Regions from separate parts of the Homo sapiens genome. Here regions 1, 2, 3, 4, 6 and 7 are each reported to be linked to region 5. The links are microRNA targets in miRTarBase. Many come from high-throughput screens and were not tested one by one. Region 5 holds a microRNA gene; each other region holds the end of a gene's coding sequence.
Evidence for each region. Region 5 holds the annotated microRNA hsa-miR-155-5p (UUAAUGCUAAUCGUGAUAGGGGUU, at 1,610-1,633, shown strand). A microRNA usually pairs through its seed, bases 2 to 8, with sites in the 3' UTR of a target mRNA and lowers its output. Matches are read on the target gene's strand: a 7mer-m8 pairs with bases 2 to 8, a 7mer-A1 pairs with bases 2 to 7 and ends in A, and an 8mer does both.

Region 1 (4,069 bases), not on the chromosome of region 5:
ATCAGAATTTCTGGGGATAAGATGGAGGCTTTATGGGATTCCAGTATACAGCCAAGGCTGCAGATGACAGCTCTTCTAGATCATCTTTTACCTCCCCAGCAGGATTTTCATGTCTTGCTTTGTGTGTGGCAGTATTGTTCTGTGCTTTGTTTTTTAACGGGAAGTGTTTTTATAGGTAATACTCAGCTGGCCTTACAGATCATCAAAAGGAATCAGCTGCTCCCTGCAGTGAAAACACACTCTGAAGTGAGAAAGAAGCCAGTGTTTCAGCCTGTCCACCCGATCCAGCCCATCCAAATGCCGGCTTTCACCACTGTGCAGAGAAAGTGATACTTCACTTTTGGAAAACTGTTACCTGAGACCCAGGGGAGAATTTACTGGCCATTTTAGTTGTATCACAGCAGAATGAATAAAAGATGGTGAAGGCTGTTAATTTTGAGTCAATTCTACCCCTGACATTTGGCCAAAAGCTTACTTAAAATTAAGGATTTACTAAGTCATCATCAGCTGTTTTTCTTAATTTCAGCCAGACTATTAATTTTGAGCCATTATGTAATATATGCCATAGGCAATTAAAACATAATTTTATCAGAAGTCTTTTACACTTTTATTGACTATTAGATTATTTTAGCATCTGAGGTTTTGTGTTAACGTTCAAAAATTGACAAAGAACATCAGCAGTAGATGAAATAGCCAGTTCAGAAGCTGACCTGGGGGTGAAGGGGAGGGAAAGAGAGTTGACGTGTTTTATGTCTAGTTATGACTGAAAAGACCAGAAAATGTGTTGAGAAAGTAGGTTAAGAAGATACAACTGGGCCAGGCACAGTGGCTCATCCCTATAATCCCAGCACTTTGGGAGGCTGAGGTGGGCAGATCACTTGAGGTCAGGAGTTTGAGACCAGCCTGGCCAACATGGTGAAACCCCGTCTCTACTAAAAATACAAAAATTAGCCAAGCATGGTGGCACACACCTGTAGTCCCAGCTACTCAGGAGGCTGAGGCAGGAGAATCGCTTGAACCTAGGAGGTCGAGGTTGCGGTTAGCCGAGATTGCACCATTGCACTCCAGCCTGGGCGACAGAACAAGACTGCCTCAAAAAAGAAGACACAACTGATCTGTTAGGAATCATTTGCTTAAAAAGTGCAAATACAACAGGGTTCAGTGTACTGGCCTTGTTCACTCTCCTAGGTTCTGGAGTCTGCTGGCAGGCAGTTCAAGGTTCATTACTAACCCTTTTGCAAATGCAAACAAGAATTTAATAGCTTCTTCCCAAGAGACAGTTATGTGTTGTGGGATTGACGTTGACAAAATTTGCCAATAGGATGTATATACACTAACATTAAGTAGGGGGAAAAAACAATACAAGTGGGTGCAGTGGCTCACATCTGTAATCCCAATGTTTTGGGAGACCAAGGCGGGAGGATCACTTGAGGAGTTCAAGACCAGCCTGAGCAACATAGCAAGACTCTGTCTCTGAAACATTTTTAAAAGCTGGACATGGTGGCCCATGCCAGTAGTCCTAACTATTCTGGAGGCTGAGGTGGGAGGATTGTTTGAGCCTAGGAATTCAAGACTGCAGTGAGCTATGATGGCACCACTGCACTCCAGCCTAAGTGACAGAGTGAGACCCTGTCTCAAACAAACAAAAGACAATGTGGATTTGCTCTAGTAAATTGGGTGTCCCCCTAGTTAAGATGGTGTTTGGTAGATTCATCAAAGCTTGCCATTTAGGAATATCCCTTAACGTCACAATGCTTCACTTCCCTAGTTTGGAGACACATTAGCTGAATCTACATGTTACCTCAGTTTCAGAACTAGAGAGACAAGTGTGTGGATAAGTACTGATTTATCTGAAACTTTATCTGAATTATTCTTTTTTTTTTTCCTTTGAGACGGAGTCTTGCTCTGTCTCCCAGGCTGGAGTGCAGTGGCACAATCTCGGCTCACTGCAACCTCTGCCTCCTGAGTTCAAGTGATTCTCCTGCCTCACCCTCCTGAGTAGCTGGGATTTCAGGTGCCCGCCACCACGCCTGGCTAATTGTTGTATTTTTAGTGGAGATGGGGTTTCACCATGTTGGTCAGGCTGGTCTGGAACTCCTGACCTTGTGATCCACCCGCCTCAGCCTCCCAAAGTGCTAGGATTACAGGTGTGAGCCACTGCACCTGGCCGTTTTTTTTTTTTTGAGACGGAGTTTTGCTCTTGTTGCCCAGGCTGAAGTACAATGGCACGATCTCGGCTCATCGCAACCTCCGCCTCCCAGATTCAAGTGATTCTCCTGCCTCAGCCTCCAGAGTAGCTGGGATTACAGGCATGCGCCACCATGTCTGGCTAATTTTGTATTTTTAGTAGAGATGGGGGTTTCTCCACGTTAGTCAGGCTGGTCTCGAACTCCGGACCTCAGGTGATCCGCCCGCCTCAGCCTCCCAACATGCTGGGATTACAGGCGTGAGCCATCGAGCCCAGCCTATCTGAATTATTCTGTTGCTGACAGGAAGCGGAACTCAGGTAATGATATATACTAGAACTGAATATTTGTGACTGAGATAGGCATTGCCAACAGACTCAAAGAAGGGGAGAATATCCTCCTCTTTTTAAACATGGATGGATGGATGTAGGGGCTCCATTGATCGAGTGCCACATTGTAGTTGTTTTGTACACAGAGTAGATTTTTACAGGTGGACACAGAAAGCAGAGATAGCCTAGCTTCCTTGGACCTCTTGAAGCCCCTTCTAAGTAGGACCATAGGACCCGTAATCTGCACTGCTGTTGGTTTAAGTCTGCCGTCTCTGCTTTCCCATACTCCAGACCGACAGCAGTACTGTGAGACCCACTCAAATGAGCAGAATTGCTTTGCCTGGGAATTTTCTGGAGAGTGAGTCCACAGACTTCATAAATCGCTAGGAACTCACATAGTCATGGTAGTATGAAGGGGAAAAGCCCTATAATTGTACTTCAAAAAAACACATCTTTAGAGAAATCAAGAAATTAGAACTTTCTCTGCATGCTGGTTTGTTTATGGGAAAGCAGGCAATACCTAGTAAGGGTAGGGCAGGTCCTATATTAAATAAGACTATATTTGGCTGCAAGTAGCAAAAAATAGGTCTGTGACTTAAAGATTATTTTTCTCTCACTTGAGAAGGGGATATGAAGGCAGCTGCTGGCCTGGGTTCTAGTGTCCCGTGATGCCATCCAGGACTCAGCTCTGTTTTTCCATGCCACTGTCCTCAGCATTTGGGCATTTGTTTCCATAGTCACAAGATATTCCAGTATCACATCAACATTGAAGGCAAGAAAAACAGGGCAAAAACTAGCTAATCTTGATGGGAGACTATCTGGAACAAAACTTTCTTAGAAACCTCAGCAGCCTTGAGCTTAACATCTCTTTTGTCACATCATGTCATGGAGCCATCCTAAGCTGCAGGGAAGCCTGGCAAAGATGTCATAACCATGCCTGCTGCAGTTGCTGGCATAGCCCTGCACATCCTAAGGGAGGCCAATTCAGTGTTTTTCAGATTAATGTTCCAGCAGCTCAGCTTTTCCTTCCACTGCCTACTGTCAGCAGAGCCCAGCAAATTAAATATAAGTTCTTCACCTCTGTGTCTGGACTCATACTGGTTCCCATAGCCAGGAAGGCTTCTTCCCACCTATTTTTCCTGCCCCATTTTGTTAAAGCCACCTCTGCTAACTGAGGTAACTCTGTCAGAGGGGTTTGAACCAGAGCAACTCCATCTTAAATGGGAGCTGGGTAAAATAAGGCTGAAAGCTACTGGGCTGCATTCCCATGTGGTTAAGGCTTAAGGCATTCTAAGTCACAGGATGAGATAGGGCAGCACAAGATACAGGTCATAAAGACCTTGCTGATAAAACAGGTTGCAGTAAAGAAGCCAGCTAAGACCCACCAAAACCAAGATGGTGATGAGAGTGACATCCTCACTGCTACACTCCCACCAGCGCCATAACAGTTTACAAATGCCATGGCAACATTGGGAAGTTACTCTATATGGTCTAAAAAGGGGAAACATGAATAATCCACCCATTGTTTAGCACATCATCAAGAAATAACCATAA
Region 2 (4,069 bases), not on the chromosome of region 5:
CCACACTGTGGTGTGGCCCAGCTTATCACAGACCAGCTATTGAGGGCCAAACCTCGACTGGCACTGCTTGTCTGTGGAGTCAGAAATCAGACCCTAGAGGCCAGTGGCTCATGCCTGTAATCTCAGCACTTTGGGAGGCCGAGGCAAGACAGATCACCTGAGGTCAGGAGTTCGAGACCAGCCTGGCCAACGTGGCGAAACCCCATCTCTACTAAAAATACAAAAATTAGCCGGGTGTGGTGGCGTGTGCTTGTAATCCCAGCTACCCGGGAGGCTGAGGCAGGAGAATCGCTTGAACCCAGGAGGTGGAGGTTGCAGTGAGCTGAGATCACCCACTGCACTCCAGCCTGGGCAACAGAGCGAGACTCCATCTCAAAAAGAAAAAAAAAAAGAAAAGAAAGAAAGAATTTGGACCCCAGGATCCTCAGGGGCTTGGGCAGATTAAATGCATCCTGGGTAAGTGGCAAGTTGTGACAGCTGAGTGAAGTGGTGATGATCTGAACATCCTCCCATAAACAACCTGAATTACAGAGATCAGAGGTTACAAGACAGAGGTGCATTTTTACAGTCAGCCCTGTTATCTAGCATCATCCAGCCAATCAACCAAGGACTTGCTCAGCACTTCACCAGGGTGCAGCAATATGGTCCCCATCCTGAAAAGAAAACATGGGCTCTGCTCTGGGACAGGTGACAATTCCTTTAGAATGACTTAAAGAACAATTACACTCAAAGGTGCTAAGTGCAACTGGAGTTCAGAGAGAAATCATGCATGGGCACTAGTCCAACTGGTACCATGCCACCAAGGCAGGACTTGATGTAGGCCTTGAAAGATGAGTAGGATTTGGATAGATAAAGGGAGGAGGGATGGCGTTCCGGATGTGAAGAGCATGAACACAAGTTTAAAGGTGGCAATAAACCAGGTGTGTGTGTGTGTGTGTGTGTGTGTGTATGTCCATATTAAAAGTCAGGCGGAAAGTCAGCCAAACAGAGTGGGCTTAGTACTACAGGAGACTTTGAACTTGATGTGGTTGGTGACAGGGAATCACTGTACATTTTTAAACAGGGAGGGGACATGGACCAAGTGGTGGCTTTAGGAAGTGGTCTAATAGCAGTGGTTGACTCAGGATGGCTGCTGTGGCTGATCTCTCCATTCTTGGCATGGCCACAGTACTTTTTGTGTCCTTCTGTGGACGTAGCTCATTGTATTGGAGTTCTGCATCCACATGTCTGCATTCCTCACGGACACCAGGAGGTCCTTAAAAGCAGTGGCTATGTTTTATCTATGTTTCTATTCTGACATCTACCTGGCTCACAGGAGGCACCCAATGAACACTGATTAGATGAATAGATCATTTAATTTCAATCCACTGAACTACAATGACATACTATACAAGGATAACTACTGTCAAAGAATTTGACAAAACTGTATACAACACTAAAGCAAGACAAATCACAATTTGATCTTTTCTTAATGATTTGTGGAACACTAGGATCTTAGTCTTACCCCCATCTCTGTAAGCAGCAATTACTGCTGTATAATAATTTCGATGTCACAGGATACTAGATGAGTTTTCCTTTTTTTTTTTTTTTTGAGATGGAATATTGCTGTGTTGCCCAGGCTGGAGTGCAGTGGTGTGATCTTGGCTCACTGTAACCTCCGCCTCCCAGGTTCAAGCAATTCTCCTGTCTCAGCCTCCTGAGTAGCTGGGACTACAGGTGCATGCCACCATGCCTGGCGAATTTTTGTATTTTTAGTAGAGATGGGGTTTTACCATGTTGGCCAGGATGGTCTCGAACTCCTGACCTCAGGTGATCTACCTGCCTTGGCCTCCCCAAGTGCTGGGATTACAGGCGTGAGCCACTGTGCGCAACCCTAGATGAGTTTTCTACATATAGATTTGGATATATCATTTGGATATGATCACATTTGAGTAAACCTGTATCTATATAGTATTGTTCGGTATACCTGTACTGCAAATTCTTACGGTGGAGATTTGGCCTGTTCTCCCAGTGTTCAGAAGGGATTTGGTTGAAGCTGAAACTGCCCTTAATCAAACCCAATATTTAAAAAAAATCCAGACTGGTAATAATTTTCTCTTTATATACATGGAGTTTAACAACAGGACTCTTGAAAGTAGTAACAAATTCCTCTTAAATAAGATTTGATGTTTTTAGGCCGGGCGCGGTGACTCACACCTGTAACCCCAGCACTTTGGGAGGCCGAGGCGGGCAGATAACCTGAGATAGGGAGTTTGAGACCAGCCTGACCATCATGGAGAAACCCCATCTCTACTAAAAATACAAAATTAGCCAGGCGTGGTGGCGCATGCCTGTAATCCCAGCTATTTGGGAGGCTGAGGCAGCAGAATCACTTGAATCCGGGAGGTAGAGGTTGTGATGAGCCTAGGTCGCACCATTGCACTCCAGCCTGGGCAACAAGAGCAAAACTCCATCTCAAAATAATAATAATAAGATTTGATTTTTAAAAGTTAAGCAATCTAAAATGCCAAACAATGAGTTGACTTGTGAAACTTTGAATCGTATTCCCAGGAAATAATCTGTAAAGTGAGGTATGCCCATAAGCGTATTTCAGAGAAAAGGAGCTTAAGAGAGGACAGATGTCTGGCATGAGGACAGCAGGCAGAAGAGTCAAGAGATGATGGTCCTTCCATGAGTCCGTCTCCAGGTTTAACTGTGAAGCACCAGGTCTCTGAACTCAGATTTGTAGTAAGTGCCCTTTCTGTCCCCTGCAGGACCCAATCCAGTTCTGGGACAGGAGTTGTTCCAGGTAAACAAAGTCTATTCCATACATTTATTTGTTCACTCATTCGACAATGATCTATGAAGCACTTACTATGAAGCAGACCCTGTGCTAAGCTCTGGAGATAAAACCATGAGCAAGGCCTTAACATCAGGGCTTCTGCTTCCAGGAAGTCATGGGCTAGCAGGGAGACACATACACAAGGATGAGGCTTGGAAGGCTGGGAAAGTCTTCAGAGATAGTGAACTTCCTGAGAGGAGAGGAGGGGAGTCAAGTGTTGTGGGCCGAGGCCACAGCAGGTGTGTGCAAAGAGGTCTGGAGGGGTGAGGGAAGTTCGGAAATGAAAGGAGTTTTGCGTCTGGAGTAGGGCATGAATACATGGCTGAGAAAAATCCTGTGCTTGGTCGGTGCTGCAATTTGCTTGCTTTCTAATATGCGTGGCTTTCCACCTTCACCCACCTGCCCCCTTGACAAGAGAACAGAATTTAATTTAGAAGAATCAGAATTTATTTCACTATGTGAACATTAAGAATTTACCTACATAGTTGAAAATATTCACAAAGGACTTGATCATTCACACTCATACACAGAGAAAGTCTGCTGAATAAAAAAATGCTCCTTTACCCATTCGACCTCCTCTCAGGGGCTGCAGTGGGTTTGCCAATTCCACTGTGGGGCTTCAGTCTTCATGAATGTTGAATAGTTTGGCTACTTCATTGAGATCTTCATGCTGCTCACCGTCCTTAATGATCTGAGGGAGAGAGAGTAACAATAGGTCCCTAACTTACTCCATTGCGTTCAGGCCATGCCCACACAATGGGGCTACCTGGGGCAGTCCCCATATCACACTGGGAGGGAGTTGTGGGAACAGTTCTCTACTAACCCCAAACAAGCAGCCTGCCAACTCCCAGGTCACCCAGCCAAGTCCCAAGTGAAAAAGAATGTTCCTGAGCCAAGGCTATACCTTTGTTCTGCTCAGGCACAATTTGACCTGGCCGGGGGACAATGCATCTCAGGGCACCCGATGAAGTTACAGGAATGTTTCTAAGCCGTACTTCCCATCTTCCTCTAAGAGTTATGACAGGCACCTACCTTCCTTGCTATTGGCATTCGGTTAAAGATGTTCCATAGCACAATCCCCACGACCACTTTGTCCCTGAGGTAGAAGATGACACCTTTGCCGTAGTCCTCCCCCTGGACGGGAGCCTGTGGAACTGCCGGGGTGCTGGGAGGAATAGTAATTTCTGAGGCCTCGGACTCTGTCTCACTCTCTGATCGGATACCAGTTCCTGTGGCCAGCCCCCAAAA
Region 3 (4,069 bases), not on the chromosome of region 5:
AAGTAATCAGTGCTTGTTCTAGATTTCCTCTTAATGCCTTGTATATGGTCAGGTAATAATTACTTACAACTTTAGACATATTAATAGAATTAATTGCTCTTTTAGTAGAATATTTTAAAATCTCTAAGAAATCAAATATTACTTTGATTAAAGAGGATTGGATTTTGATGTTTTTCTAGACCGTAATACTCTGTAGTTTGTTTACATGTGTATTATCCTTTCTGTTGAGTTTTTTTTGCTTGTATTAATAATATTTTTTCTGTTTTAGAATTGGGGCTTGTTGATGGACAAGAACTGGCGGTTGCTGATGTCACCACCCCACAGACTGTACTATTCAAACTTCATTTTACTTCTTAAGGAAAATCTCCACATAATAGAAAACTCATGGAAATAATATACTTTGTGGATGCTAAGAAGTTGAATCGATGTCATTTTTAGCAATAGTGTTGCCACGATTTGTCTTTTTTTATATAATGAACCACTCTTTTTTAACTTTGTAACCTTCCCTTGAAGACAGAATTTTGGTGTTGGTGCTTGTAAGCATTTTCATTAATAATATGAGAAATGATACCTGGAGAGAGAGATTATGAGCAAATGTATTGCTTCTTTTAGAGGAGGAAGCATACAACCTCTTTTGTGTGAATTTTGTTATTATGGTCAAAGAATGCATTCCTAAGTTTTCATTTGAGTACCCAAATACACAAAAGGTGTCCCTTTAAGGAAAATAAAGAATTAAGTTTTAAATAACATTACATTTTACAATCTGACATCTGGAGTATATTGAACATAGGCTATTTCTTGATATAACACTCATTTAATTGTGGCCATCCAAATGAATATTATTGCAGAATTTATCTTGTTCATAATGATTTGTAAATGGTGTTATAGCTGAATACCTGTGCATGAAAATGGGCAATATTTTCATCTGTTTACTTGTAGTGCCATAGAGGCCAATATGCACAATATTAACTAATGCCAAGACATGGCTGTTTAAAAAATTTAATGTTCAAACAGTTATCACTGATGCTTTTGCACTATTTATTAATAAAATCATATATTGTGTACTTCTTTCACTGAAGTTTTTAAAAGTACATTAAGGGTAATCAGTAGTTCCATGGTAATATAGGAATAATTTTTAAATGTGTAGCAGAGTTATATCAAATTTTTATTGCACTTAATACTTTTGCTACAGCAATTTCTATAGTAAAAATTTACTGGTTTAATTTAACTTTCTGTATCAATATAATTTTTTTTTTTTTTTTTTTTGCGACAGAGTTTCGCTCTTGTTGCCCAGGCTGGAGTGCGATGATGCAACCTCAGCTCACTGCAACCTCTGCCTCCCCGGTTCAGGCAATTCTCCTGCCTCAGCCTCCGGAGTAACTGGGATTACAGGCGCCTGCCACCATGCACGGCTAATTTTTTGTATTTTTAGTAGGGACGGGGTTTCACCACGTTGGCCAGGCTGGTCTCAAACTCCTGACCTCAGGTGATCCACCCCCCCCCGCCCCCCTCGGCTTCCCAAAGTGCTGGGATTACAGGCATGAGCCACCATGCCTGACCATGTTTTTGTTTCTTTTAAGTGAATAAAACTTCAAACAAAATTAAGTACAAATACTAAAAAAGTAGGTGCTAGTATTTTAATATGAGAACATGTATGTGTTCTCATTCTTTGTTTTTGACTTAGATATGGCAGTTTTCTGTTCAAATGTTTTTTGGTTACTTATGTGTCACTGAGTTAAGTTTTCAGTAATCTTTCTAGCTACATATTGACAAATAAGTTTTATTATAAAACCATACGGAATAAATTTATAAGCTCTACCTGAAAAGTTACAGGTGTAGCTTACAATTTTGAAAGTGAAGGAACTAAAATTTAGCACCATATAGGTGCTATAATAATTCTCAAAGTAGCATTGTAAGAAGGTGACTCTATCTGAGAGCTGAATAAATAGTTTTAGATGGTTTAGGTAGGTCATTTCACCAAAGCTGTACAATTAGAAGTCTTGGAACTGTAACTGTACAGCTAATTTCAACCCGAATCTGCCCCAAATCTCCTCTGCAGACTACTTAGCTGTTTGAAAGTACTTGAGTTACTTGGTACTACTTGTGTACATGACTAAATTGTTAGTTTTAACATGCAAGTTTTTACTGTAGTTAGATAAAATTATTGGAAGATGATTATAACTTCTTAAGGGGTTCAATCTGATTTTTTAAAAGAAAAATAATTCTTTTTTGCAGAGTTCCTTGCAGTGGGGTAAAATATTCAAATATGGGAGGCAGGCATATAAGGTAAATAATCACAGCAGGGAGGGTGTAATAGGATGAGTGATAGGGGTCTGTGGCAAACTGGAGTGAGTGAAAATTATTTGGTGACCACTCTGGCTGACTATTCCCATGCTTGGTATTCATATTTTTCAAAAGCAGCTGGAAATCTAGATTTTTGAATGAAATCTGGCTTTTAGTTAGGATTTTGTCTTTAACTTGGGCCCAAACCAAATATAGCTGCAGACTGGATTAGGAAGGCCACCAATTTAAGGTATTTTCCCATGTCCAAATGTTCGAAGAGAATGCACACAGAAAAGGTTATGTTTTAAGTAATATGCACAGTGCACATTGTTAGGATAACAGCTTTAGTGCTTCCTAGGTGTCTTAGTCCATTTGGACTGCTGTAACAAATTGCCATAAACTGGGTGGCTTATAAGCAGTAGCAATTTGTTTCTTAACAGTTCTAGAGGCTGAGAAGTCCAAGATAAGGAGCCGGCAGATTTGGTGTCTGGTGAGGGCTGCTATTCTGGCTTAGAGTTGGTGCCTTCTTGCCGTGAGCTCCCTTGGGCCTCTCTTATAAGGGCACTAACCCCATTTATGAGGGCTCCATCATCATCTAATCATCTCCTAAAGGCTCCCCTTAATACTGTCCCATTGGAGATTAGGTTTCAACATAGGAATTTGTGCAGGGGACACCGACAGACCACAGTATTAGGGGTATTTTGACTGCAGCAATGAGTTTACTACTATTTTGAGAGAGAGGTTGTGCTTTATGCACCATGTGTTCCACGAGTTGGACACAGTGTTCATACGTGATCCTGTCTTTTAGGCAAGCCCAAACAAGTGTTTCTCCTTACAATACCAAGTTAATACAGAGCTTATTAAATATTTGAGACAAAGGGCTAAGAGAAGTGTGAGGCCCAATTTCCCTTTGCAATTATTGCTGGCAAGGTGCAAGCTTTTAGCACGTGAACTATTTTCCTGGAAAGCACACACACGAAAACTTGAATATTCCTTCCGGGGAAATCGACCTCTATCGGTAGCCATAGCTTCCCCTTCGCTAAGAACTGCTGTAAGCACGAAATCGACATCAATAGAAACCCTTCCGCGTTCCTCGGTAACTAACGGCAACCCTGCGCTCCCGGATGTGACGTCAACGTTCTTCTGTTCTTCCGTCTGTCGACCGAACTCTGGGCTCGTAGATTTGGTTGCTGTGTACGTGGAAGAAGCAAGCGCATGCGCACATGGGCCCCCTTCGTCTCAGCTGTGCGGGAACGGCCGAGGGTAACATCCCGGGCTCGCGGGAGGCTGTCGGGGTAATGGCCACACGCTGACAGAACCAGCCGAGTGGAAAAGGGGAGCGAAGCCGTTCCTCTGCACCCTTCCCCAGGCCTGAGGCCTTCCCGCTTGGTGCTGCCGCCGCCACTGCCGGCTGAGGAGGGGCGATGAGTTGGTTCAACGCCTCCCAGCTCTCCAGCTTCGCTAAGCAGGCCCTGTCCCAGGCCCAGAAGTCTATTGACAGGGTTCTGGACATCCAGGAAGAGGAGCCGAGCATCTGGGCCGAGACCATTCCGTATGGAGAGCCGGGTAAGAGAGAGAGGAGCGGGGTTCCTGGCTCCCGGAGGCTGCTGTTCTCTTGATGCAGGCAGGTTAAGTGGTGTAGAGAGGGGTCCTTCCTTGCTGAGAGAGTTTTCAGGAAGTAATTTCTCCCCGGCCCGTTCCCTAATGCTGCTTCAGCCTCCAAGTCGGTCTTTGCTGTTTTCCTGAGGGAAAACCCAGATCCAGGTTCCCCCTTGTCTTTCTTTGG
Region 4 (4,069 bases), not on the chromosome of region 5:
CCCAGGTTTACATTTGGTGATTTCAGATTTCATTTTCATAAAAAGGCTTGAGAACAATGCCAATACTGCCAATTTTTGATTATTCAGGGATGCTTTTCTAACCCATAGATTATTCAGGCTTCTGTATTTCCTCTTCCTGATAGCTGTCTTTCCGCATCATTTCACTACTCATTAACACAGTCATAAATATATAGGCAAAAAACCCCTAAGAAACAACTTAAATCATTTAATTAGTAAGCGTCCCTAGAAAAAAAATGTCTGATGAGAGTAAGAATTCAAACTCCTAAATAAAAGTAATTTTTGATTTACCTATCATTTATTACCAGATTATCTATCCAGAAAGTAATCAATCTAGTAATCCTTCCTTTATAGTGGAAAGTTAAGGATTGGTTGTAATATTAAAGACCAATAAGATAGATCTGAACTCATAGCTATCTTCTTTTTTAATATACTTTTGGAATTCTCAGTGAATTTGTTTGCTTGCCCAAAATATTATTTTCCATTCTGTAATTTTTCTTTACCTTCCATTACTTACAGGTTTCTCTGCAATTTAAGTACAGTTCACCACCAATAATTGTTTCTGAAGTTAAGGGTGACCTGCTGGCTTGGTCACTTTTGCAGTGACTGGACCTGCCTGTGGCCAAGCACATGTTCCATCACTGTAACTCATCAATACCAAGATTCCAGCAATGGATTCTCAACCTTGTCTGCTGTGGGAATCTAGGCAGTCTAGCCAAGACCAAGAAGAGCTGAGCTTCTACAAGCTATTGATATAAAACTGGCATAGTTTTATCTTCTTTCCTCTTGACAAAATATATATACTTTAAACGTCCTTTCATCTCCCTTCACAAAGTACAAATTAGGAACTTTTCTTCAGTTTTGTACAGTGGCATATTGCTGCTTCCCCAGATTGCCATATAAGAATACTGATTCTCTCTTTACCTTCTCTAGTGCAAGCAGGAGAACTCCAGTTACTGATAAGGAAAGCACTACCAATGCTTTCAAACATATTTTGCAAACAGAAGAGAGAGAACATGTTAAAGAATCAAAGAAGGATAGGGCAGATCAAATACACATCTATTTACAACTCACGGAGATATTTAAAAAAATTAACTCACATATCTATTGGCATTTGTCACCCTGGAGACTGTGAAAATGACACCGTACTTGAAAAGTAAAGCATCTTATAGAATAGTTTAATGTGTACAGTATATTTAACAATATCATGTTCCTTTGGAGCACAGTGATGGCAAAAGTGGCCCTCAGCCACATTTATGTATGCATGTTCGCATTTATTTTTGGATAGGAGAACTGGTCACTCTACCCTGTGGCTTGCTGTAGCAATGAGGAAAAGGTCTATCAGCTAGGACCGTGCATGCTGTATTTGACAGTGAGCAACTTCTCCCCCAGATGGTTGACTAATCCCTCAAGTGAACAATTTCATTTCATCCAGTAATTTAGTGGTGCTTGCTGGGCCTCAAACAGAAGCATCATTAAGCTTCTATTGGGCTTTCTGTCATCATCCATACCTCTAAATTGAGATTGGTTTCATTTATTCACCGACACTGTAGAACACATAATGAAATGCTTAGATTTAAAAAAAAATTGCATTTTATAACAACCAGTCCCCAAACCAAACACATTAACACTGTCTTCTGCATTTTACCAGTAGTAGTATAATATTCAATGAGGTATTTCAGTTAATGCATCATTCTCTTTCACATATGCACTGAGTTATCGTAAAGATGAAGCTGCTGTGGGCTTTTATTTGGTGTTGCTTTACCTTTCCCACATAACTGGGGAAAATTCACATCTTTTCTGTTTTTTTTTGGTTTATTTAAAAATAGAAAACAGCAACCTTTTTTTGTTTTATAGCCTACTTCTCAAAATTGTTGTGTGATTAGTGACAACGGGGGAATCTACAATGCTCACATCACAGTAAACTACCACTGACTTACTAGGATCTTAATAGTCTTACAATCCCAAACAAAAACCCTACTCATCTCACTGATGCAGTACCAGCACTTTTGGAGAAGGGTGTGGTTCTCTTATGAGGTAAATTGTACAAACATCGCAACAAATTTCTAAAAAATGTTTTCTAGAAATAGAAACTTGACTTTACCCTCTTCAAAAGCAACTGGAGGCCGGGCGTGGTGGCTCACGCCTGCAATCCCAGCACTTTAGGAAGCCGAGGTGGGCAGATCACCTGAGGTCAGGAGTTCGAGGCCAGCCTGGCCAACATGGTGAAACCCCATCTCTACTAAAAATACAAAAATTAGCCAAGCATGATGGTGGGTGCCTGTAGTCCCAGCTACTCGGGAGGCTGAGGCAGGAGAATCGCTCGAACCCGGGAGGCAGAGACTGCAGTGAGCTGAGATTATGCCACTGCACTACAGCCTGGGTGACAGAGTAAGACCTGTCTAAAAAAAAAAGAAAAAAGAAAAAGCAACTGGAAGAGATTGGGGGGAGCCTTATGTGCTGGTATCGTTCCTAATTACACTCACCCTGACAGGGGCAGCTCCTTGATGTAATGATTCAACAGACTACTGTCTGCACAGGTCCTAGGGGTGCCACATGAGAACCTGTCACCATTATAAGCCACTAGCTCTTATTTTTCTATAAACTAGCCTATTTCCCCTTAAACTGATCATTTAAATGTTCTATAGTAATTTGTTTTAACCATCCCCAAATGCATTTAGTGCCAATGTCAAAATGGAAAAAATAAAGCCTCTGAGCTGCAATAGAGGCATCACGTCAGGGTGGTGTCCAGGGCAGGATGGCGCTGGAGAGCACTGGCAGGCAAATAAACACACAGAGACAAGACAGTTCTCGAGAACCTCACACACTGCTATGCTCCCATTTGTTTTCAGGCTATATTACTAATCCTTTGCTATATCTGCATCTCAAAAAAGTGCATTTTGCAAAATTATCAATTTATGATATGCCTCTGATACAAAATGAGAAGTCAGATAAGGAAAAGCACGAGTGTATGTAAACACAGTGTTGGACTGAGCTAGCCTTTGTAAAGAACACATCCAGTACCAGAAGGGGTCCAGTGGACACTGCTTTTCCCCCACAGAGAATGTCAATATTCTAGAGTTTGTTACTGCAACAGACTGGAGTTTGTTACTGCAACAGACTGGAGTTTGTTACTGCAAACGACAGGGAAAGAGTTCTTCACGAGGTGCCAACCAGCTCCCCTCAAGTTTACTGAGTTGGTGGAAATGTGGGCGTTCTAGAGAACTGCCCTAATATAGACTACAGCTAAGAGGGATGAATATAACTTTCTGAGCTTCAACTAAATTGTCAAGTATAACTGGTGGCAACAGAATTTCTCTCAGATAGTCTTCTAGGATGATTTTATGATTTCCTCTTCTCCAAATGTGATGTTTGCTTAAATATGTGATAGAGTGTATCTTTTTAAAACATGTTCTTAAAATATATTAGCAGGTCATTATATTACTAATCCTCATTTTAGTAGATTTTAAAATATCCCAAAGGGGGATAAATATTAATCCATCCATTGAATTTCTTTTGCTTTTTTTTAAATATATTCTGATTTGCACATGTAAAATAATGCACACTTATGAAAGAAAGTCTGAACTCCTACGGTGACCTTGACAAGTCCACGTCAATTCCTAAAACAGGCAATGGTAAAAATACTGAATGATGTTGTACCACATATAGCCTGACAAAAATGCAAAAGACTGTATGAGAAATATCCACAAGTTGCTGAGGGTCATCTCCCTGGAAACAGCTTCCTTATGGCCCTTGGAAGGTGGAAAAGCTCCTAAAAGACAAGATAGAAATATTAGTTTGTTTTACTGTAATGGTAGGTCTCCTGGAATAAAAGTTGAATATTAGCTTAACTACATTTGTACATGTTAAAGCACCTTCAGTGACTTTCCAGTGCCCCAGAGGAGAGATTTTATTTGAAATACAATTTCTGTACTACCTAGCCCCTTCTTGCCTCTGAGCCTTTGCCTTTTCTCTGCCTGCAATGCTGTCCTCCTCCACTTAATGAATAGCTGGCTCATGTGCATCCTTTCCATATCAGAAAAGATATTCC
Region 5 (4,069 bases):
ATTTTTAATATATATAACACATTATCAAAAACACTGTCACTTTTCTGAGTGCTCTAATCAGGCAATTCGTATGTATATTTAAAAAGAGGGAAAAAGCTAATTAGTATACTAAATATATTTATTTTAATACCTGTGCTCATATGTTATCTTTAAAGAACAGGAATAAAATTTATGGGTAGAATAGTATGCCAGCAATTTACCTTCAATACAAATTAAACACATCTTTTAAGAAAAGGGCGAGTTATATTGGCTGGGGTGGCACTAACACTACATTATTAATATGTATTTATTGAGCATTTACTGTGTCCAGGACCCTGTAAGGGGGAAAAAAAGTCCTTGTTTTTACAATCTTTATTGACTGAAATTCTGTAAAATGAATTGAATTCCTGAAGTGACATCATTTAACCCAAATTTTTTCATCATCAACTAATTCATCTCAGAAAACAGTAAAGTTTAAAAAAAAATACTATCAGTAAGAATAATATATTTCCTTGGTTTGGAAATTTCCAAACCACGATATTCTGCCCTGTCAAAATATATTCACTGGGGAATTTTTTACTTCATACGTTTCTTTTGAACTTAGTCACATTTTTATATCTAGCTGGTTTCATTATTAAATAAAAGAAAAGGTGATTCCCCTCTTGTACTGCAGGAGACCACATACTTGAATGATACTCTAACTTCTAGGTTCTGTTATAGTAACACTGAAATCAGAAACCTGTGGGAGAAATGTCACTTTATCTGAGAGAGTAAAATCAGACTCTAAAAGGAAGTAGCAAATTCATCTTGTTCTTTTTTTTAATCAACCCTCTGCCTAAGACAAGTAGTTTGAAACACAGAGGACTCTTTAAGTCATACTTCCTTTATGTAGTCAAAACCAAAGCCACTGGGTAGTGCTTTCCCCAAAGGAATCTCTAAATAGTAGACGGGGACATTTTCAGATAGATTCGTTTGTAGGCAAACCTCCATTGCTTGTATCACATTTCCTGAAAGAATAAAGGTAAAACTTCAACTATGTATTACAGAAAGAAAAATTCAGCCTGAACCCTACCCTTATAAAACAGGTTAATTGGGTTTTAATTTTCATAAATCATAAAGGACTATTTTGAACATTTGGGCCTTTAATTGTCTAGCTCCTAGATGAAGTACAAATCAGAAAAAAAAAAAACTGTACTGTGTCAGAATGCAAGCTTTCCTCTTTGCATTTTGGCATTTGAAAACTCCGAAGAGCGGTTTTTGTTTTTTATTTAAAGAAGATGATACATATGTGTACCCGATTCAAAACTAGAGAATAGAATTTAAAACATAATTTTCAAAGTCTTCAAATATGCCTAAAGGTAACAATGTCATCTTTTAATTGCCAATTTCTCTACCACTTTCAAAAAATTACTTCCAAGGATTTAATGAGCTCCTTCCTTTCAACAGAAAATGGACTATTTTCCTTTCAGATTTACTATATGCTGTCACTCCAGCTTTATAACCGCATGTGCATACACAAACATTTCTTTCTCTCTTGCAGGTGGCACAAACCAGGAAGGGGAAATCTGTGGTTTAAATTCTTTATGCCTCATCCTCTGAGTGCTGAAGGCTTGCTGTAGGCTGTATGCTGTTAATGCTAATCGTGATAGGGGTTTTTGCCTCCAACTGACTCCTACATATTAGCATTAACAGTGTATGATGCCTGTTACTAGCATTCACATGGAACAAATTGCTGCCGTGGGAGGATGACAAAGAAGCATGAGTCACCCTGCTGGATAAACTTAGACTTCAGGCTTTATCATTTTTCAATCTGTTAATCATAATCTGGTCACTGGGATGTTCAACCTTAAACTAAGTTTTGAAAGTAAGGTTATTTAAAAGATTTATCAGTAGTATCCTAAATGCAAACATTTTCATTTAAATGTCAAGCCCATGTTTGTTTTTATCATTAACAGAAAATATATTCATGTCATTCTTAATTGCAGGTTTTGGCTTGTTCATTATAATGTTCATAAACACCTTTGATTCAACTGTTAGAAATGTGGGCTAAACACAAATTTCTATAATATTTTTGTAGTTAAAAATTAGAAGGACTACTAACCTCCAGTTATATCATGGATTGTCTGGCAACGTTTTTTAAAAGATTTAGAAACTGGTACTTTCCCCCAGGTAACGATTTTCTGTTCAGGCAACTTCAGTTTAAAATTAATACTTTTATTTGACTCTTAAAGGGAAACTGAAAGGCTATGAAGCTGAATTTTTTTAATGAAATATTTTTAACAGTTAGCAGGGTAAATAACATCTGACAGCTAATGAGATATTTTTTCCATACAAGATAAAAAGATTTAATCAAAAAATTTCATATTTGAAATGAAGTCCCAAATCTAGGTTCAAGTTCAATAGCTTAGCCACATAATACGGTTGTGCGAGCAGAGAATCTACCTTTCCACTTCTAAGCCTGTTTCTTCCTCCATATGGGGATAATACTTTACAAGGTTGTTGTGAGGCTTAGATGAGATAGAGAATTATTCCATAAGATAATCAAGTGCTACATTAATGTTATAGTTAGATTAATCCAAGAACTAGTCACCCTACTTTATTAGAGAAGAGAAAAGCTAATGATTTGATTTGCAGAATATTTAAGGTTTGGATTTCTATGCAGTTTTTCTAAATAACCATCACTTACAAATATGTAACCAAACGTAATTGTTAGTATATTTAATGTAAACTTGTTTTAACAACTCTTCTCAACATTTTGTCCAGGTTATTCACTGTAACCAAATAAATCTCATGAGTCTTTAGTTGATTTAAAATAATTTTTATGGCCCATTTTCTTTTGCAAAGTACAAATTATAATTCCAGAAGCTATCTGCCAAAAAAAGACAATGGAAGAAAATTATGAGGACACTAAAGGGAACATTCCTGACTCCTAGGACACAGTATTCTCATGTAAGAATACCCATTTGGCTTTGCCCCACTTTCTGTTCAAGTTGTATGTGCTGCCAAGACAAATTTCTTCTCCTCACTTTCTGTTCAAGTTGTATGTGCTGCCAACACAAATTTCTTCTCCTAACACCTGGAATGAGCTTGTGGCTCCACGGAGCTCCCATGTAGGTAGAACACATTCAAGAGTGTTTCTTCAGGCCAGGCACAGTGGCTCACGCCTATAATTCCAACACTTTGGGAGGCCAAGGCGGGTGGTTCACTTGAGGTCAGGAGTTCTACACTACCCTGGCCAACATAGTGAAACCTCGTCTCTACTAAAAATACAAAAATTAGCTAGGCATGGTGGTGCGTGCCTGTAATCCCAGATACTCAGGAGGCTGGGGCAGAAGAATCACTTGAACCCAGGAGGTGGAGTTCACAGTGAACGAAGATCGTGCCACTGCCCTCCAGCCTGGGTGACAGAGTGAGACTCCATCTCAAAAAAAAAAAAAAGTGTCTGTTCAATTCATTTTATCTGCCACTGTATATCTACAAGAGGACTCCTTGCTTTGAGTCCCAGTTCTTCAAAATCCTGCTTGCTGCCTAAAGACACAAAGTCATAGAACATTAGGACTGGAATAAACTATTGTAGTATAACCTTCCTGCTGTTACAATAAAAAGCTATAAACATTACAAAGGCACTTAAAGAAAAGCTGTGCTGGGAAATGCCTTATTTGAAGAGCATTTGGGTACACTCACATGAAGCTTTGGAAAGTTACTTAATCTTCCTCTAAGCCTCAATTTCTTCATCAATAAAATGATGAATATATTTCATATTTCATAAGATGTAGGCTTAAATGAAATCATGCATGTGAAAAGCACAATGTCTATTATGCATTAAGTGTTAAACACAAACTTTCAAACTTTTACATTTCAGTCATTTAAATCAAATGATCTACCATAGCAGATCTCCCCAAAGACACTCTAGCTCCAAACTAACTATAATCAATCCCGTGGTGACGACCCAAAGAACCAGGGTTCCTGGGTTTTCTCTCACGCCCAGCCCACCTAGGCTTCTGACTGCCTATCTCCTCATCTTAGAGGGATTCCTCCTGACCAGTCATTACAAAAATTCTTGGAGCATGAGCAAGACTGAGTCTGTGTT
Region 6 (4,069 bases), not on the chromosome of region 5:
CATACTGGGGAAAAACCCTATGAATGTAGAGAGTGTGGGAAGGCCTTTTCCCAGAAGTCACAGCTGATTATACACCACAGAGCTCATACTGGAGAGAAGCCGTATGAGTGTACCGAATGTGGGAAAGCCTTCTGTGAGAAGTCCCACCTCATTATACATAAAAGAATTCACACTGGTGAGAAACCCTACAAATGTGCTCAATGTGAGGAAGCCTTCAGCAGGAAGACAGAACTCATTACACATCAGTTAGTTCATACTGGGGAAAAACCTTATGAATGTACTGAATGTGGAAAGACATTCTCCCGCAAGTCACAGCTCATCATACATCAGAGAACACATACTGGAGAAAAACCCTATAAATGTAGTGAATGTGGCAAAGCCTTCTGCCAGAAGTCACATCTCATTGGACATCAGAGAATTCACACAGGAGAAAAACCTTATATATGTACTGAATGTGGGAAAGCCTTCTCTCAGAAGTCCCACCTTCCGGGACACCAGCGAATTCATACAGGAGAGAAACCTTACATATGTGCTGAATGTGGAAAGGCCTTTTCTCAGAAGTCAGACCTTGTTTTACATCAGAGGATTCATACTGGGGAAAGACCCTATCAATGTGCTATATGTGGGAAGGCCTTCATCCAGAAGTCACAACTAACTGTACACCAGAGAATTCACACAGTGGTAAAATCATAATGAACTGGCCACAGAAAAGCCTTAGTATTAGCTCAAGCCTTAATAATTACTAGAAACCCAATTAATTTGATAAGCTTGGGGACAACATCCCAATAGATAAAAATTTTTAAGGGAATTTGTTTCTAGTTTGGTGATGCCTAACTTTTCCAGCAAAGATGATGGAAAATAGTTATATAAATGAAGAACATTTTTAATATGGCATGTAAAGCTTTTAAAGTTATGAACTCAGTGATCAGCACAGCAAGTTAAGCATACAGAATATTGTCAAGTTGCATATTCCTTATACTACAAAATGATAATCAGCCATTGTGAAACTGCTAATATTAGCTTGTCATAATTATGGCCATAAACTAATTTTTCTATAAAAGACGTGGAAGAAAGCTTAAGTAAACAATAAAATAAAACCTATACACTATTTTAAGAAGGGGCTTGAGCATGACCCCTAAAGCTACATGTAAAGTTCTTGTACAAAAAATGGAATGATAGGTTGATCAGATTCAGTAAAGTTGATCTGTATGCATTTTCCCATCTCAAGCATATAAGTTGACCTGCATCTCTGGAAGGACCTTGAGATTGATGCATTTTGAGCAGGTCTCCCTTTTACTCTTCCCAACTGGGAACTTGGAGCTGAAAAACATTGGCACTGAGGCCAGATGGCCTTGGGTTTAATCCTGGCTCAGTGCCTCACAGATTGTGTGACTTTAGGCAAACATACTTCTCCTAGCTGAGTATTTTTTATCAGTAAGTACAAATACAATGCAGAGCTCATTTTCAGTTAATATTAGTACTTTTTAAATCTTTACTCTCTATCTTGAAGCATTAGATGTTAAGACTAATGTGTAAAAACCACGTCTGAGCTTGCTTTTCCCTCTGGACACTCTGCTTTTGATTGCCTATCCCTATAAGTGGCTCATTTTACTGTCTTCTGATCCTGGTGGCCTTATTTTTGCTATGTTAAGGTTGTGTTTTTTAATACTTGGATTTATTTTCATATACTTACATAAACCGTGGTGATTGCACATAAAGACCCTGCCTAATGTCTCTTCACTTCTTTGTGATCCTTTCCCTGAAGCCCCAACTGTTTGCCCTGAAAACTTACAGGGGAAAACTCTTGGTGTGAGAAGTAATGCCTGTATAGCCTTGAGAACTGGAGGCCTCTAAGATAACACCTACTATCTGTCATTCCATCCATTCCCCCATAAGCATTTTTAGATGAGCACCCTTGCTGGAAGTGACCTGCAGGAGAGCATACTTGGCAAGGATGAGAATACCTGTGTGATAAACACAGCATCTGCACATATTTCCTGCTTGATTTCCTATCCACTTGATCCCCTTCCTGCTTGGCTAAACTGTCTGTTGTGAAAACATGGGGCTCCTCTAGTTGAGAACAACTGTAGAGTAGAGGGCACACTGGACAGGGATGTGGGAACTGAGAATTAAAGATGCCATTCACTGGACAGGGATGTGGGAACTCAATGTTAAAGATATCACTCCCCCCACATCCCAGGTGATTTATATATTGTTGGGGTGGGAAAAGAGAAATCCAAAAGAGCAAACCCATTCATAAAATGGATCTGCTAATTTTATTGTTGAATAACAGAAATAAAAATACTATGTAGCATTTGGGTAGCTAGCACATGGCTATAAAACTAGTGGATTTTTAGCTCTATTTATATGGAACTGAAGCTACAGTTGTGTGGAACTAAGCTTCCCCTCTGTTGGTAAATGGCAGATACCTAGTTTTCATCAATAGTTACATTGAGCTTACTCTGATGTCTTGTTTTGCATAATTCTTTTATCAGGCTTACTCTGATGGTCTGTTCTTTATATATTTTTTAATCTGTGCATCCTATGGTTGCCCTGACAGTGTATCTAATACGTGTGATTAGTCATATTCTTCACTCCTCAACAAAATTACATCAGTTTTTCACAGTAGTCAATGAACCTTATATCAACACCTCAACAACCTTTTTTATAAAAATCTTATAATTTGGTTCTAAAATGATATACAGAAATGCCCCAAGGCAAGAGTAGCTAAGACACTTTTGAAGAACAAATTTGGATAACTTATTAGACTTCTTATAAAACAGTGGTAATTAAGGCAATGTGGTGTTACACGAGTAATCATGTAGATCAATGGTAAAAGAGAATCTGAAAACTGATAATTACCTGTAGACACTTGAATTATGACAAAGTTGGCATTCTAGAACAATGGGAGGAAACTCACCTTTTCAGTAATGCCTCTGGCTCAGTTATCCAAATGGGTAAAACAAAGAAAAAACAAATTTACTGCATACCATTCACAAAATTTACTCTGCCTAAACCTATAATAGAGGACAATGTATAGCAGTAAGTATAGATCAGGCAAAAAGAAAGCCTGAAAATACCTAAGCAACAGTCTCAATAGGTTAGAATAAAAAAACGCTGTGATCTAACTCCAAAAAAATAAAAAGGACATGATAAAAATAAAAGAAGATGAAGAAATAGGAAAACACACAAAATAGGAACAACAAAACAAGAAAATTGTGGCTCATGTCCGTAATCCCCATACTTTAAGAGGACAAGGTGGGAGGACACCTTGACCCCAGGAGCTCAAGGCTGCAGTGATTGCACCACTGCACTCCAGCCTGGGTGACAGAATGAGACCCTGTCTCAAAAAAATGTATTGTAGATTGAAAAAATAATAAACCTTTAAGTAAACTGGGAATAAAGGGCAGCCTCCTCAAATAGTTAAAGGGCATAGATAAAAAACCTACAGTAAACATCATATTTAATGGCTGGAAAAAGGCAAGAATATTTACTTGACTCTTTCTAGTTAACATTACACTGGTGAATTTAGCCAGTGCAATAAGAAAAGCAAAGTAGGGAGTGGGCTTGCAACCTGGAAAGGAAGAGATAAAAGTGTTGTTATTTGTAGACAACATATCCTTCTATGTAGAAGATCTCAAAACTGCACAAAATATTTACTAGACCTAATAAACAGGTTTTGCAAAATATCTAAATAATTTGGAGAGATTAATTAAAACTCAGATATTCTGATTCTAGAGTCTACACACTTAACAATTATGTTATGCTGCCTCTCCTGCCTCCCTTTCCCTTCTGTAATTAACACAGTTAATCTTCCACACCGTTTTCTGAATTGGTTCATGATACATGATGCTTGCATGCAGATGCTCCTATTATTTAGCCAAACTTCAATATTGAAAAAAAAAAACTCCATAAAAACACTTAATGTCACCATTTAATAAAAAATTTAATCTTAATCCTTATGTTTTAGTGTTCAAAAATGACTTATACATCCTGACAGTGAGATAGTTTATTGGGAATACAGACCTATGATAATCATGTTGGATCTTTAAATGAGTTAAGATGATTC
Region 7 (4,069 bases), not on the chromosome of region 5:
TGAAATTGCTCCATGTATACAGCCAGTGGTTCAGAATCCCTGCAGTTGGATCCAGAGTTTCTGAGAAAAACAATGGTGTTTAAGTTTTCCTGCTTTGGTGATACTGAGTTTTTATTGTAATTTTTTAGATGTAAAAATAGTATTGTGAGGCCAGGCGCGGTGGCTCATGCCTATAATCCCAGCACTTTGAGAGGCCTAGGCAGGCGGATCACTTGAGGTACGGAGTTTGAGACCAGCCTGGCCAACATGGAGAAACCCCGTGTCTACAAAAAATATAAAAATTAGCCGAGCGTGGTGGTGGGCACACCTGCAATCCCAGCTACTCGGGAGGCTGAGGCACAAGAATCGCTTGACCCCGGGAGGCAGAGGTTGCACTGAGCCGAGATCGTGCCACTGTACTCCTGCCTGGGTGACAGAGCGAGAATCAGTTTCAAAAAAAAAAAAAAAAAAAGTATTGTGTTTTACTAGGAGAAAATGCGTAATATAAATCTGAGATGTAATGATACATCTCAGATTTGCTTCAAAATAAGCTGGAAGCAAGTAGTTTAGAGATGAAACTAGTTTTGCCACATGTTGTTAACTTTTGAAGTTAGTGTAATGATATACTACTGTTCATTATGTTATTCTCTTGCATACATTTGAAAATTTCCATAATGAAGTTTTTCTTTTAATTCCATTTTAGTGGTAAAAGTTTTTTAAAAACTCACTACTACAGAAAAAGAAAACACACATAACCTTAAAGCCTGGTGCACACCCAATCAGATAGTTCCCTCAAAATTCTAATTAAAGTGCATGCAAGAGGAAACTAGTAACTTATCTACTCAAACTCACTTTCCACTCAAGAAAAATGTGGATATCTGAAGTTAAGAAATAGTCTGAAAAGTGTGATTCTTAAAGTATTCTTTATTAAGATCATTAAAAGTTGTAGAAACAACTTTATATTATAAAGGCACAGGGAGACAGTTCAATAAAATATTCAAATTAACAGTAACTTACAGTACAAAAGACAATTTTAATGCACATACAAACCCCAAATGTCTGATTCAAAAATATTTTACTGCGTCTATTAATGGGCAATGATTAAAAATATAAATTGCTGCCATATAATAAATATCTGATAGTGAACATCTTGATAGCAAAGTGAACAAAATATTTATTGCTTTTCACTTACATATTTTTCCCTGTAATTTTAAATTCCTAATTCTTTTACTATCTTCTCAACTTTTCCCAAAGATAAAATAAATTTCACATAATTTCATGGAGGGGAAATGGTAGTTGTAAAAAACTACCTCAAGTAGCAATCACCGCTGGCAGTGTTTTCTCACTTTCTGTTCTGCAATTGCAATCACACTTCCAAAAAGAAAAGCAAATGTTTGCTAAACCATAGACAGACAACCTCTTTGTGACTGGTATTATAAGGTTTATAATGAAAACTTATCAAATATAAAAGGTGCTCCCTCTTGAAAATGTGTATTTTATTTGAAGTTTTGAGTAAGAGGTGAGTGTTTGGCAATTTTCAACACTCCCCTCAAAAATCTCCCAAAGTTGCAAAAAAGTCAGTTTAGTAAAATTCCAAGCACTTAAATGCTTCATTGAGGGCCAGTTGATATACGCAATGCACTAATGTGTAAAAATTAACCGAATGCAACTATTTTATAATGGAGAGCTCTTACCTTTTCCTTCCAGTTTTTAAACTGGCATAAACTTTATTGACTTCATCCTCCTATTTTTATAGCAACCTAGTTTTAGATGGTACAAGTTGAATTTCTATCACAAGACAATAAAATAACATGAAAGCATTATCCTAGTTAATGCTATTTCAACTTAAGAAATATCTACATTGAAGTATTTGATAATAATTGTAAAGTTACTTAACCGTATGTCATGTTCAGACAGTATGTAGCAGCTAGTAACGTGCCTGGCACAGAGTTGATGCTTAATAAATAGTTGCTGAATAAATGAAAAAGAAAAACCTGCCTTTGGTTGTGCATACTTTAATCACTTTCTGATTTAGAAAAAGATCAGTCTAGAGCTCACTACTGCACACTACATCAAACTTTGCTGTAAACAAAAGTAACAACTTCAAACAGAAAAATATTACCTGTTAGTGATAGTCAACTTATATAAAGAGCCCACACATTTCTATGCAAATAATTAAATTTGATGTTCTGATGTTTAACCCTTAGGTAAAGAAGACCAAAGTGTGCTGACTGGCTAATTTGTATGCTTTATAGTAATAATGATTAGTTCCTCAATAAATGAAAAGTTATGATGCCCGATTAAATTCAAACAATGGCTACCATGTTAATTTTGCAAAACTACCCATGAATAAAAGGTAGGATAACTTTAAATTACTTGAAAGCAGTAGTTTAACTTTCAACAGAAAAAATAATCAGGAAGATCTGAATTTAATAATGACAGAGCTAAAATACTGGAAGTAGGGTGGTAAGAATAAGTAGCTGACCAATTCTATTTTAAATTCTAAACATGAGATTAGGTGTAATATTTCTTTGGCATATGCATTACTATCTTGGACTAGTTAACACTTTTTAGATACTGGGTTGTATTTTTTTTCTGAATCAAAATTAACATCAATATATAGATTCTAGTATATTCTTCTTAAAGCCTTTAGAAAAGATAAAATGACATTTTGCAACATATGCCAAACTTCATGTTTAGTGTACACTTCTAATTATTGGCATAGAGGGATATAACTGTTAAATAACCTGAAATGACACCATGCAATGGTGAAACTACAGAAGTTGGTGAAAAGAAGTATTTACATAATGTAATATTTAGCTTTCTTTAAAAAAAAAAAAAAAAAACACAGTAAACCTGGGAATCCTGCCCTAACAGTAAATATGTACCAAATAGCACTGAATGACAACTATTAAAAATTTAAATGAACACCTACAGTAACCTGAATTTTCAAAATTTAATTAAAAAAAAAAAGGGGGAAAAAACCCTACACATCAGAAGGAAAAAGCGGCCTATAAAACAGACCAATCTGACTTGACATTCAAAGTAAATGCAAGAGATTCACAAAATCATGATAGTAAATGCAAACTAAGTACCAAGTACCCTTTGATACACAAGCCAATGTACTATCAGACTCATTTCCAATAGCTTAACAATATTCATTAATCCACTCAAGCATTCCGGGGTAGTGGGGAGCAGCTGATGACAGCTCAAGCCTCCAAAGTATAAGAACATACTTATTTGCAGAAGCATCATGTGATTTTTGAAGTAATGTCTTATTTTGATGGATGTTAACATTAAGATCTATCAGTGCAAGTTTATCATCCTCTGAATGTAACACTTCCAAATTTCATTTTTTCAGATCGTTTTTTGGTGGTTTAGTTTTAGCCAGTGCTGTTTAAATGGAGAAAAAAAGAAAAGTTCACCATAGACTACCTCACGTTGTTACTTAATTGTGCTAGGTATTCACGCAGTTCTTTTGCAGCCTGGAATCTGCCATAGCGCTTCTTTGGGTTGGCACACTCATCCAGCAAGGCCTCGAGCCGGCCATCTTTGGCAATTTCACTTGGTGGATCATGAAGGAGTCCTCCAGAAGTGCCACGCCAGGTGGCATGTCTGGATAAGAGGTTCTGACAAACAGCATAGTAATTGTGGTCCACAGTGGCACGAGCACAAAGAATTTCTTTTGAAAATGATAAGCAAGCCTCCTTATCACAGTCATCAAACTTGCTTTCATACCATACATCCCAATTTTCAGGTTTATCTGTGAAAGGAGGAAAAGCAGAAGTAGAAAAAAATTTTTTAAATAGTTTTCATTGCTTCCAAAAATAGAATATTTCACTAATTAATAGTATTTGTTCTACACTTTTAGGTAAAAGTATATTATAACCATAAACATTTAAATATATAAATTCATACAAACATTCACTGGGAGCCCACTAACGCTAGGCAGAAAGATTCAGAAAGGTCTCTACCACTTACAGGTTTAGTCTAGCGACTTTCCATCATACACAGAAAGTGCCATAAAGAAATATGACACAATGCTACAGGAATAGTGGGGAATTAAATTAGCACTTGTCCCTGGGGCTGT

Region 1: miRTarBase lists CNOT10 as a target of hsa-miR-155-5p. The part of its 3' UTR that is shown has no 7-base or 8-base seed match.
Region 2: the mRNA of AIFM1 is a reported target of hsa-miR-155-5p. The part of its 3' UTR that is shown has no 7-base or 8-base seed match.
Region 3: the mRNA of UBA3 is a reported target of hsa-miR-155-5p. The part of its 3' UTR that is shown has no 7-base or 8-base seed match.
Region 4: miRTarBase lists LPGAT1 as a target of hsa-miR-155-5p. Seed matches in the 3' UTR shown: 7mer-A1 at 1,701-1,707.
Region 6: miRTarBase lists ZNF300 as a target of hsa-miR-155-5p. Seed matches in the 3' UTR shown: 7mer-m8 at 1,509-1,515.
Region 7: miRTarBase lists DIPK2A as a target of hsa-miR-155-5p. Seed matches in the 3' UTR shown: 8mer at 1,809-1,816 and 7mer-A1 at 1,013-1,019.

Annotation. Positions count from the first base shown.
Region 1 is chr3:32,773,282-32,777,350 of GRCh38, forward strand. It overlaps CNOT10 (CCR4-NOT transcription complex subunit 10), which reads left to right. Exons shown (of 19, transcript NM_015442.3): 19 at 176-594. The coding sequence ends at 330. Among named protein-coding and RNA genes, the nearest start is that of CNOT10-AS1, 38 kb to the left of the region's middle. RefSeq lists a silencer at 1,016-1,310.
Region 2 is chrX:130,126,117-130,130,185 of GRCh38, forward strand. AIFM1 (apoptosis inducing factor mitochondria associated 1) reads right to left here. Exons shown (of 16, transcript NM_004208.4): 15 at 3,854-4,050; 16 at 3,246-3,512. The coding sequence ends at 3,441. It also overlaps a transcript of RAB33A not described here. Among named protein-coding and RNA genes, the nearest start is that of ELF4, 18 kb to the left of the region's middle.
Region 3 is chr3:69,051,725-69,055,793 of GRCh38, reverse strand. It overlaps UBA3 (ubiquitin like modifier activating enzyme 3), which reads left to right. Exons shown (of 18, transcript NM_003968.4): 18 at 269-1,064. The coding sequence ends at 357. It overlaps TMF1 (TATA element modulatory factor 1), which reads left to right and starts at 3,461. Exons shown (of 17, transcript NM_007114.3): 1 at 3,461-3,849. The coding sequence starts at 3,708. RefSeq lists an enhancer at 3,400-3,869.
Region 4 is chr1:211,746,261-211,750,329 of GRCh38, forward strand. It overlaps LPGAT1 (lysophosphatidylglycerol acyltransferase 1), which reads right to left. Exons shown (of 8, transcript NM_014873.3): 8 at 1-3,790. The coding sequence ends at 3,639. Among named protein-coding and RNA genes, the nearest start is that of NEK2-DT, 73 kb to the left of the region's middle.
Region 5 is chr21:25,572,374-25,576,442 of GRCh38, forward strand. It overlaps MIR155 (microRNA 155), which reads left to right and starts at 1,607; the gene lies at 1,607-1,671. MIR155HG (MIR155 host gene) reads left to right here. Exons shown (of 3, transcript NR_001458.3): 3 at 1,520-2,795. RefSeq lists a silencer at 1,551-1,730 and enhancers at 3,282-3,431, 3,824-3,873.
Region 6 is chr5:150,892,048-150,896,116 of GRCh38, reverse strand. It overlaps ZNF300 (zinc finger protein 300), which reads left to right. Exons shown (of 6, transcript NM_052860.4): 6 at 1-1,718. The coding sequence ends at 693. It also overlaps a transcript of IRGM not described here. Among named protein-coding and RNA genes, the nearest start is that of ZNF300, 11 kb to the left of the region's middle.
Region 7 is chr3:143,989,183-143,993,251 of GRCh38, reverse strand. It overlaps DIPK2A (divergent protein kinase domain 2A), which reads right to left. Exons shown (of 3, transcript NM_173552.5): 3 at 884-3,742. The coding sequence ends at 3,411. Among named protein-coding and RNA genes, the nearest start is that of DIPK2A, 19 kb to the right of the region's middle.